Linked DNA regions of Homo sapiens. The protein of the gene in region 2 interacts with the protein of the main gene of each other region in a pairwise test. Each region holds a gene or a part of one and is shown on either strand. Other genes may lie near its edges.

Region 1 (7,175 bases), on a different chromosome or scaffold from region 2:
GCATCTCAAGGTATCCAGGCTCCGAAGATTAGGGGCTAAAGACACACTAAACATGTAGGGGTTTGGTATGAGTTTGCTTCCTTTTCGTTTTGCTTTTTCAAGAACTCAAGAGGTAAGTGTTTGGGCACCAGGCTGACCAGGCCTAGGAGTTGGGAAGGAAAGCTGTCATTGGCATCAGCTCTGTCCTGTACCTCAGAGACTGCGTTTCCCTGCCTGGGGCAGGTGGATGACGTTTTGACAAAGCTGTTTGGACTCAAGGACACTTTACTATGGCCTCATAAAACAAACACTAAACCAACCATTCGACTGCGGTTCCGCAGCCATTGAAAATGACCGAGGGATGGGCCAGCAGACATCCTCCGCCAGCTCACTCCTACCCCAGCCCTGAGCCTCCCTCCCGGCCTCTGTCCACCCTCCAGCCTTGCCCTTGACCTCCCTTGCCTTCCCCTGGCTCTGACCTCTCCCGTCCTCTCTCATCCCTGACCAAGGTGGCCCCCCGAGTATGGGTGGAGGGTGGAGTGGGATGGACAGAGGATGTCTGCGGGGCACATTCCTGAGACCCAGTAGCTCCCATCTGCAGGCAGCGGGGCTGCCCTCTCCCCGCCCCAAGGCAGGCCACGCTCATTTCTCTTTCCCCTTGTACTCGTAGCCTCCAGAGGTGAAGTCCCCAGTGGAGCCTATGGCTACTCTTACATGCCCAGCGGGGCCTATGTCTATCCCCCGCCAGTCGCCAATGGAATGTACCCCTGCCCTCCTGGCTACCCCTATCCACCGCCCCCACCTGGTGAGTGTGTCCTTTGCTGCCCCCACTCCCCTCATGAGCCCACCTACCCAGGCTCCCCCCAGGCCAGGGAGACTTTATTCCTTGAGCTGCTTCAGGACCAACGAAGGAGCTGGAGAGGCCCCCCTCACCCGGGAGGGGGCCGCAGCCGGGTGCTCACCATGTCCTTGTTACTCTCTCACCGAGCAGAGTTCTATCCAGGACCCCCCATGATGGACGGGGCCATGGGATACGTGCAGCCCCCACCACCGCCCTACCCTGGGCCCATGGAACCTCCGGTCAGCGGCCCCGATGTCCCCTCCACTCCTGCAGGTGAGGGCCCTTGGGTGCTGGCAGCCCTTCGGGACCAGCCCTCTCCTCCCCGATGTCGCACAGAGAGCCTCAGAATGGCCAGAGACTGCTGAGAGCCGCAGATGATGGATGACCCCTGGACTACCCCAGGGGCCCAGCAGGGCTGTGGCCTGGTGGAGCGGAGCTAGATTCTGGCCCCACCCCCATCCCTTAGCTATCCATGTGCCCTGGGCGGGGAAGGTCACCCTGTGTGCCTCTCGATCCTCTCATCTACACTCAGCTGGTCGGTCACAGTGGCACCTGGGGCATTGGCTCAAGGATTAGATGAGGTGAGACATGCGATGGGCCTGGAAAGGACCGTGCCAGCGCGTGGCATGTGCTCAGGAAACCTCACCTGCTGCTCTCATTGGTGGAACTGGACCCCCAGCACCAGCTGCCCCGAGCCATGGGGGCCCGGGGTCTCTTAGCTGAGCTCAGGGGGAGGAGAACTTGTCACCGACACCAGGTGTGTTTGCTCTCACAGCCGAAGCCAAGGCCGCAGAAGCAGCCGCCAGCGCCTATTACAACCCAGGCAATCCTCACAACGTCTACATGCCCACGGTGAGAGGGCTTGGCAGTGCCGGTGCAGCCCCACAGCCGCAGATGCTGGGAGCCGCAGGGGGATGACCGCACCATGTTTTAAACCTTCTAATGCAAGTCTCTCCTTTCTCCCTTCTTTAGAGCCAGCCGCCGCCACCTCCCTACTACCCACCGGAAGATAAGAAGACCCAGTAGGCCCTCCTGCCTCCCTGCCTCCCACCCTCATCTCTCTACCCTACCCCTCCCATCGGGGCTGTGCTGGGGCTTGGGGAGGGGAGGGGGCGCCTTGTTCTCCCTCCAGGTCTGATCATAAACAATTACCAGGAACTAGCATTGTGGGACATTAGGGCCCCCGGCCTCGGGAGAGGTGCCGCCCAGCTTCCCATGCCAGCCCGGAGCCCACAGTGCTGCCCAGCGTACCTCCCTCACCGTCTGGGGCTCTTCTGGGAGCACGGAGCATCCCCTGTTCCTGTTTCACTCTCAGCTTCTCCCCTCGAAGGGACTCTCTGGCCACCTCCTCCACCGCAGTCCAGCTCCCTCAGTCTGGCACCCACTGCTACACTCAGCCTCATGAGCCACTTCAGACCAGCCAGGTGTCTTCCCGGGCCCTGCCAGACCCTGCTCACATTCCCTCTGCTGGTCTGTGCTGGTCTCAGAAGGCCACCGCGCCCGCATTCCACTCAGCCAGGGTCCAGCTGCAGCCCCCGCCACCCTTCCTTCCCTTCCCTGTCCTGGGTCATGTTGTTGCCACCCTGTGTGACTTTTGAAGCTGTAAAATGAGCTTCCAGGGCTTGGGTGGCGTCGGGGCAGGGCCGCCGAGGCTGGGAGGAAGCCCTTCTGCCTTTTGCTGGTGTTTCTGGAATTTGCTTTCCCTCACCTCTCACTTCCTTCTAGAAGGAGCTTCCTGACTGGAACCAGAGAATGCATGTCTGTCCACTTGGTGGCTGCTGGGTGGGGCCGGGAACAAGGGCCCCTGACCCTGTGTGCTGGCCGGGACCTGCCACCAGCCCCCCAGCCTGCTTCTTCCCCTTAAGCTTTGTGCCCCTGGATGCGCTAACATTCACTCTTGTTTGTCCCTGGACTGGCCATGAAGTGAGGAGATGGTTATTTAAAGAGAATTCCCTATTTATTTGACAAAAAATCCAGTTAATATATTAATGTGAAATAAACCCTGTTTGCACCTCGATTTGTTTGCTGAAAATGTGAAATAGTAAAAATGAAATAACTGGACCCTTTCTGGCTCTGCGTGTGGTGACCCGGGGGTCTCTTCCGGAAGGAGAGCCGTCTGGCCGCTGAGGGCCCTGGAGACTTCTGGGACGGTTCCCTCCCATGGGAGGATCCCCATTCTCACGGCCCAGCCAGCCTGTCTGGTCCCCAAGACAGCTCTGGCCTCTGGAGCTGGTTCTTAACGGTTGTCGCTCAGCAGCTGTGTCCCTCCCCCACTGAGTCCCCAGGGCCTGGCTGGGACAGAGGTGGATGTGGCCCAGAGTTGGCCTTGAAGGGAGGAGTTGGGGCTGCCACCTTGTCCCCTGCTGGCTCCTCGAGGAATGGCAGCCCTGGCCTAAGTCCTGGTTGCTGGAGGGAGGAGGCCGAGTCAGCCCTGGAGCACGTCAGGACCTGTGACAGGGACACTGAGGTAGCCAAGCCGGCTTGCCACCACCCACGTCACGTGCCCTGCTGTGAACTTGAAGGGACAGGAGGGTGGGAAATGGCCAAAGGCCGTGACCAGGCCCACACGCCCGCAAGTCCCCCAGCCCAGCACTGGGCACAGGGTGGGCAGGCCACAGAGCTCTAGGAAAGCCCCATGCTGAGGCGCATTTTCCTGTCCCCCGGGAGCCAAGTCTGTCCTCAGGAGAGATCGGGCAGCAGCCCCTCTGCCTCCTCCTCCTGGCCAGCCTGGCCCAGAGCTCTCTGGGACTTGGCTAAGCCCCCTTCAAGGGTGTCTGAAGGGAGCACTGTCCTGACTGCCAAGGTGGGGGCAGGGGCACAGGGCTGTCCCTGCCCAGCACAGCTTGGCCCCGTCATCTCCAAGGAATGTCACCTGTGGGGCCAGGCAGGCTGAGCAACTGGCTGTCCTCCAGGGAGACGCCTCTTGGGAGCCCCCACCCTGGGCGCCACCACACCCCACCCCACCCCGCCCCGCCCCACGTCTGGACGCACTCGAGGAAGTGGGGTGAGAACCCCCCCGGGCCCAGGTCAGCTTCTCTCAGGGTTCAGCCCAGCCTGGGCACAGCACATGGATGGGGCAGGATGCTGCCCGCCTGTTCTGGGCCCCCCCGCCCCCTGCTGAGAGCGTTGTCCCCTTCCCAGGGCCTCTGTAGGAGGGTGGGGCGGGGCCAGGCCTGCCCACGGGGTCCACCTTCTGCTCCAGCCAGAGGAGGGTCCTGTAGGGATCCCAGCTGGGGAAGGTGCAGGGGGCCTGGGAGACTGCCTCTCCGAAGCGGTGAAACCCTCACCCTTCCGTCCCTCCCAGCCACCCTCCCTAAAACTTCCCCTGACAGAGGGTGGCAGCCCCAGGCTCTTTGCATAATCCTGTGGCTTCGCTGTCTTCACCCAGCACCAGCGGACAGGGAAGGGCAGAGAAGGCCACCATGGCGACACTCCTCTCCCATCCGCAGCAGCGCCCTCCCTTCTTGCGCCAGGCCATCAAGATAAGGCGCCGCAGAGTCAGAGATCTACAGGATCCCCCGCCCCAAATGGCCCCGGAGGTAGGAGTGACCTCACTGGGGAGAGAGCTGGCCTTGGGGAGCACTGTGGTCTCGGGTACGGGTGCCCTGCTGTCTGGCCCCACCTCTCGAAGGCTGGGACTGGGGACCAGCGACCCTCCCCTGCCTACTCCACCCTGGGGAGAGCCCCCTGGGCCAGCAGAGCAGGGGCTGCCAGATGGACTCTGGGCCACTGTGGGCCTCAGGCCCTGTGGTCTGAGGCTCTCAGAACCCCTCCCTCCCGGTTGGCCTGACCCCATCCCCTACTCCTCCAGCTTCAGAAGAGCCGACTCCATTAGGTGGGGGTGTCCCTGCTGTGGGGTGAGCTGTTCGGGGAGCAGCAGACCCCCAGGCCGACGTGGCACCCCCCTCACCTCCGCTGCCGAGCCTCACTTCCGCTGCTGGGTGAGGAGCAGCCGCCACTGATAAGCAGAGCTGTTTCCTCTGGGGAAGGGAGGGAGGTGGGGTGCGGGTGCGGAGGGCTCGCGCTGCTGGGCACCCATGGACCTCAGCCACGGCGGGCCCAGGGACGGACCTCCAGGAGGCCTGCTGGGGGAACAGGTGCGGGGCATCACTGGGGCTGGAGGCCGGGGTGCTGGGGCCCCCATACCCTTGGCCTGGATCAGGCCTCAGAGGAGCCATTCCTGTCCATCTGAGCCTGCTCTGGGCCTCCCGGGACACTGCCTTTCCACCTTGCTCTGCAGATCCAGCCTCCATCCCACCACTTCTCCCCCGAGCAGGTAAGAGTCAGAGTGCTGGGGTGCAGAGAGGTGGGGAGGGCGGCTGTGTGTCCTCCTGCCGGCCGACGCTGATGGCAGCAAGCAACTTGCGGTGGGGAGGGGACTCCTGGGTCTCAACTCCCTCCGCTGCACAAGCCGCCCTTGTCCTGCCCATGGCGAGAGGTGTTGGTGCCAGGGGTGGCTGGTGGGGTCCCCAAGGTGACCCCGTGTGTCTTAGCGGGCCCTGCTCTACGAGGACGCACTCTACACTGTCTTGCACCGCCTGGGTCATCCTGAGCCCAACCATGTGACGGAGGCCTCTGAGCTGCTGCGATACCTGCAGGAGGTGAGCCCGGCTCCCACCCCACCCCCCTTCCTGCAGCTGCCCTGTCTGGTGCCCCCAGCCACCCACCCGCCTGCCTCCCCACCAGGCCTTCCACGTGGAGCCCGAGGAGCACCAGCAGACACTGCAGCGGGTCAGGGAGCTTGAGGTAACCTGGGGCCAGGGTCCCCCTGGGCAAGGAGGGGCCTGGGAAGCCCAGCCCCCTCAGGGACTCAGGCCATCCCTCCTGTCCCTCCAGAAGCCAATATTTTGTCTGAAGGCAACAGTGAAACAGGCCAAGGGCATTCTGGGCAAAGATGTCAGTGGTGAGCATGGGGTGGGGTCCCCAAGGGGCTTCTTCCTGGCTCCTTCCTCTCCCATCACAGCCTGGCCCAGGACTCTTGGCGGGAGCACCCACTTCCAAGAAGCCCTGTAGCGCTGGCCCCCCATGCTGCTGGTCCCCTTCCCTCTCCCCCGGAGGAGGCTCAGCCCCGGGCGGGGGTGATGAGGGCCTCTCCCAGGGACCCAGCCGACTCCCTGGCTGCCTCGTCTTCCCCACTCCTCCACAGGGTTCAGCGACCCCTACTGCCTGCTGGGCATTGAGCAGGGGGTAGGTGTGCCAGGGGGCAGCCCCGGGTCCCGGCATCGGCAGAAGGCTGTGGTGAGGCACACCATCCCCGAGGAGGAGACCCACCGCACGCAGGTCATCACCCAGACACTCAACCCCGTCTGGGACGAGACCTTCATCCTGTACGTGGCCGTGCTCCAGCCCCCACTCTATCCAGGTCTTTCCTGGGTAGCAGGGTCTGCCCCAGACAATGAGATGAGTAGGTCGTCCTGGCTCAGGGGAGGGGGTTTGGCCCTGGGCAAAGACTAGAGGAGAAGCCCATCTCCAGGCACGTTAGGTGGACAGTAGGTCAGATGGGACAGAACAAGATCAATGCCACACGTGCTGATGGGGCAAGGAGGGTCAGGCCCTTGTGGGTGAGTCTGGGGGTGCCTGAAGCTGTACCTGAAAGGAGGCAGGGATGGGTGCAGTGGTTCCCACCTGTAATCCCAGCACTTTGGGAGGCCAGGAGACTGAGACCAGCCTGGCCAACATGGCAAAACCCCATCTCTACTAAAAATACAAAAAAGGCCGGGCGTGGTGGCTCACGCCTATAATCCCAGCATTTTGGGAGGCTGAGGAGGGCAGATCATGAGGTCAGGAGATTGAGACCATCCTGGCTAACACGGTGAAACCCCGTCTCTACTAAAATACAAAAAATTAGCCGGGCGTGGTGGCAGGCGCCTGTAGTCCCAGCTACTCGGAAGGCTGAGGCAGGGGAATCGCTTGAACCTGGGAGGCGGAGGTTGCAGTGAGCCGAGATAGCACCACTGCACTCCAGCCTGGTGACAGAGCGACACTCTGTCTCAAAAAAAAAAAAAAAAATTAGTGGGGGCCAGGCGCAGGGACTCATGCCTGTAATCCCAGCACTTTTGGGAGGCCGAGGCAGGTGGATCACCTGAGGTCAGGAGTTTGAGACCAGCCTGGCCAACACAATGAAGGCCCACCTCTCCTAAAAGTACAAAAATTAGCCGGGCGTGGAGGTGCATGCCTGTAATCCCAGCTACTTAAGAGGCTGAGGCAGGAGAATCACTTGAACCCGGGAGGCGGAGGTTGCAGTGAGCCGAGATCACGCCACTGCACTCCAGCCTGGGTGACAGAGTGAGACTCTGTCTCAAAAAAAAAAAAAAAAAGGCTGGGCGCGGTGGCTCACGCTTGTAATCCCAGCACT
Region 2 (4,510 bases):
ATTGACCACCAAGAGTCCCCCATGGCCAAGAGGAAGTAGCTGATGAGAGAAGGATCCTTGCCATAGCAGTGTAAATAATCACAGGGTTTCTGGAAGCTGTGTTCCAGAACTCAGAAAAGCAGTTCATCTCCCCGAGGCCCTGTGACCTGCAGAGGTAACCAGATGTTGGCTGGAGCTGGGACTCCTCATACTTACCCCACTCATAAATACAGCAGTCCATTTATTGGGCACTTGCTATGTGCCATACCTCATGCTGGACATCTTCTATACATTATTAACTCTTACTTTTTATTTTTTTTTTTTTGAGACAGGGTCTTGCTCTGTCGCACAGGCTGGAGTGCAGTGGTGTGATCATAGCCCACTGCAGCCTTGACCACCCTGGGATCAAGTGATGCTCCCACCTCAGCCTCCCGAGTAGCTGGGACTACAGGTGTGTACCACCACACCCTGGTAATTTTTTCATTTTTTGTAGAGTCAGGGTTTTGCCATGTTGCCCAGGCTAGTCTCAAACTCCTGGGCTCAAGCGATCTACCTGCCTCATTCTCCCAAAGTGCTAAGATTACAGGCATGAGTCACCGTGCCTGGCCTCATTTCATATTCTGAGCAATTGTAATGCAATAGGCAAGATTATCCCCATTTTACAGATGAGAAAATTGAGGCTCAGGGAACAAATATATTGCCAAGATCACATATAACTAGTTGGTGGAGCTGTGATTAGAATACCTGCGAGTCTTACTCTAGCATCTATGTTCTTAATGATGGTATTTTCTATCCAAGAGTCTGGAAGTCTCTAAAATCTTTCAGAGGCACATGCCAGGATCTCAGGAAATGGACAGAAGATTGAGGGGAAAGTCAAGTTTTTGTCTTACTCTTGACTTCATCCTTCCTAGTTGGGCCTGAAAGATTTGCTCCAGGCCGGGCATGGTGGCTCATGCCTGTAATCCCAGCACTTTTTGGAAGGCCAAGGCGGGCAGATCACAAGGTCAGGAGTTCAAGACTAGCCTGACTAACATGGTGAAACCCCGTCTCTACTAAAAATACAAAAATTAGCTGGACGTGGTGGCATGCGCCTGTAATCCCAGCCACTCGGGAGGGTGAGGCAGGAGAATCGCTTGAACCCGGGAGGTGGAGGTTGCAGTGAGTCAAGATTGCGCCACTACACTCCAGCCTGGGCGACAGAGCAAGACTCCGTCTCAAAAAAGAAAAAAATTTGCTCCACCCCACCAAGGGCCTTGAGAGAAGATACTAATGTCTGGGAGCCTCAGCCTCTACCTCATTCATCATAACATACCCAGACCCCAGTCCAAATCCCAGGTCCAACTGAATCTCCAGTATTCCCCTGCATTGAATTGGCAATCTGAGTGTACATGGCCAGATAGGGTTTTCAGTACTTACAAGAATGATGGGGTGGCCAGGTGTGGTGGTTCACGCCTGTAATCCCAGCACTTTGGAAGGCTGAGGCAGGTAGATCACCTGAGGTCAGGAGCTTGAGACCAGCATGGCTAACACGGCGAAACTCCATCTCTACTAAAAATATAAAAATTAGCCGGATGCAGTGGCACCTGCCTGTAGTCCCAGCCACTCGGGAGGCTGAGGCAGGAGACACTTGAACCCAGGAGGCGGAGGTTGCAGTGAGCTGAGATCACGCCACTGCACTCCAGCCTGGACGACAGAGTGAGACTCCATCTCAAAAAAAAAAAAAAAAAAAAATTTCCCCATTGCCAGAATACCCTGGATTGGGATAGGGCAGCTCTCTAAAGAATTGAGCCCCTTACTCAGCAGGTTTCTTAACTGTGCCTTTGGGTTTGTACTCAGTAGCCAAGATACCAGGTTTGGAGAGGGCAGGGTGGGCCCTGAGTTGAGAGAGGTTCTACTTATGGCTGCATCACAGAGTGACCTGGGACAGCTGTCCTGTGCCAAAACACTTTCCAGTCTCCTGGTGGAAAGGGTCCATATTTAGTAGAGGATCTAGTAGATCCCTAAATTTGTGCACTCTCCTTTTGTGTCTGTATAGCCTGGAAAAAAAAAATAGCTAATACTGGCCAGGCGCAGTGGCTCACGCCTGTAATCCCAGCACTTTAGGAGGCCAAGGCGGGCGGATCACGAGGTCAGGAGATCGAGACCATCCTGGCCAACACGGTGAAACCCCATCTCTACTAAAAATACAAAAAATTAGCCGGGCGTGGTGGTGGGTGCCTGTAGTCCCAGCTACTCGAGAGGCTGAGGCAGAATGGCGTGAACCCAGGAGGCGGAGCTTGCAGTAAGCCGAGATGACGCCACTGCACTCCAGCCTGGGTGACAGAGTGAGACTCTGTCTCAAAAAAAAAAAAAAAAAAATAGCTAATACTTGTGGACGAGGCACTGTTTTAAATGCTTTACATGTATTATATAATGCTCACAATGACCCAGTGAGGTAGATATTATTTTATCCTCATTTTACTGGTAAGAAAACTTAGGCATACAGAGGTTAAGCAATTTTTTCAGGGTTACACAGCTAGGAAATAGCAAAATCAGGATTTGACCTTAGTTTGTCTGGCGCCAGAGTTTATGTGCTTTCTACCACATTATACTGCCTCTTTGCTTGGCCTCAGGGCCTTTCATTGTGTGTCTTTCTGATGACCGTCTTGATGGGACTTTGGGATAGTGTCAGGTTAAGGGAACAGGAGCCGGTTTCCCTTTGTGTGCCCCCATCTTTTCTTCCCAATAGGCAGAGGCCTCCCTAACCAAGAATGTCCCCTTTCATCTGTCCACAGGTCACTGCAGCCAGAGGGGTCCAGAAGAGAGAGGAGGCACTGCCTCCACTACAGCAACTGCACCCACGATGCAGAGCATCAAGTGCGTGGTGGTGGGTGATGGGGCTGTGGGCAAGACGTGCCTGCTCATCTGCTACACAACTAACGCTTTCCCCAAAGAGTACATCCCCACCGTGTTCGACAATTACAGCGCGCAGAGCGCAGTTGACGGGCGCACAGTGAACCTGAACCTGTGGGACACTGCGGGCCAGGAGGAGTATGACCGCCTCCGTACACTCTCCTACCCTCAGACCAACGTTTTCGTCATCTGTTTCTCCATTGCCAGTCCGCCGTCCTATGAGAACGTGCGGCACAAGTGGCATCCAGAGGTGTGCCACCACTGCCCTGATGTGCCCATCCTGCTGGTGGGCACCAAGAAGGACCTGAGAGCCCAGCCTGACACCCTACGGCGCCTCAAGGAGCAGGGCCAGGCGCCCATCACACCGCAGCAGGGCCAGGCACTGGCCAAGCAGATCCACGCTGTGCGCTACCTCGAATGCTCAGCCCTGCAACAGGATGGTGTCAAGGAAGTGTTCGCCGAGGCTGTCCGGGCTGTGCTCAACCCCACGCCGATCAAGCGTGGGCGGTCCTGCATCCTCTTGTGACCCTGGCACTTGGCTTGGAGGCTGCCCCTGCCCTCCCCCCACCAGTTGTGCCTTGGTGCCTTGTCCGCCTCAGCTGTGCCTTAAGGACTAATTCTGGCACCCCTTTCCAGGGGGTTCCCTGAATGCCTTTTTCTCTGAGTGCCTTTTTCTCCTTAAGGAGGCCTGCAGAGAAAGGGGCTTTGGGCTCTGCCCCCCTCTGCTTGGGAACACTGGGTATTCTCATGAGCTCATCCAAGCCAAGGTTGGACCCCTCCCCAAGAGGCCAACCCAGTGCCCCCTCCCATTTTCCGCTACTGACCAGTTCATCCAGCTTTCCACACAGTTGTTGCTGCCTATTGTGGTGCCGCCTCAGGTTAGGGGCTCTCAGCCATCTCTAACCTCTGCCCTCGCTGCTCTTGGAATTGCGCCCCCAAGATGCTCTCTCCCTTCTCCAATGAGGGAGCCACAGAATCCTGAGAAGGTGAATGTGCCCTAACCTGCTCCTCTGTGCCTAGGCCTTACGCATTTGCTGACTGACTCAGCCCCCATGCTTCTGGGGACCTTTCCTACCCCCATCAGCATCAATAAAACCTCCTGTCTCCAGTGGCCCCGGCTCCTCCCTGTGTGCTGGGCATTAGCGGGTGGGCATGGGCTAGGGCTCCCCAGAGACTGGGAGCCTTTTGTTTCTTCTAGTAGACAATAGGCTTCATTGTGGTCCCCTCACCCCTCAATTTCCCTAACAAAGCTCTAGGCTCCCTTGGAGGGGGCAGTCTTGCTCTGGGGCCCAGTCACAGATGCTGTAGTGGACTCAGACACAAAACCTGAGGAAAGACTTCTTGATCTTAGGGCTCAGAAAGGGAGAGGTTCAGAGCCATTAGTCTAAAGGCAGATGCTCCCACAGTCATGCATGTGACAGCTGTACCTCACATCCCCAAGAGGACAGCTTTAACAACAAGAGTTGGAATTTGAACCCAGGTCTCTGTCTCAACTGAAGACTTCCAGGTACCCTAGCTTGCAGTCCTAGAATCATTACAGATAGCTCACTCACTCCTGCTCACCAAAATAAAGGCTTAGACCAGCTTTAGGAGACTCCAGACCTAAGGGGGACTGGGGGGTTCTGCTAGGAATCATACC

The links. Proteins that work in one complex are often made in the same cells at the same time.
Region 1: the proteins of RHOG (region 2) and UNC13D interact in binary tests that used the Homo sapiens proteins (3 or more experiments, as listed by UniProt).

Annotation. Positions count from the first base shown.
Region 1 is NC_000017.11:75,841,405-75,848,579, reverse strand, and holds the start of UNC13D (protein unc-13 homolog D), read left to right. Parts: upstream 1-4,175; 5' UTR 4,176-4,242; coding exon 4,243-4,359; intron 4,360-5,060; coding exon 5,061-5,096; intron 5,097-5,313; coding exon 5,314-5,421; intron 5,422-5,506; coding exon 5,507-5,566; intron 5,567-5,656; coding exon 5,657-5,723; intron 5,724-5,966; coding exon 5,967-6,147; intron 6,148-7,175. Other genes in the region: WBP2 (WW domain-binding protein 2), read left to right, coding at 1-10, 650-784, 971-1,093, 1,596-1,672, 1,793-1,846. UniProt on the Homo sapiens protein: Plays a role in cytotoxic granule exocytosis in lymphocytes. Required for both granule maturation and granule docking and priming at the immunologic synapse.
Region 2 is NC_000011.10:3,826,450-3,830,959, reverse strand, and holds the end of RHOG (rho-related GTP-binding protein RhoG), read left to right. Parts: intron 1-2,753; 5' UTR 2,754-2,821; coding exon 2,822-3,397; 3' UTR 3,398-3,982; downstream 3,983-4,510.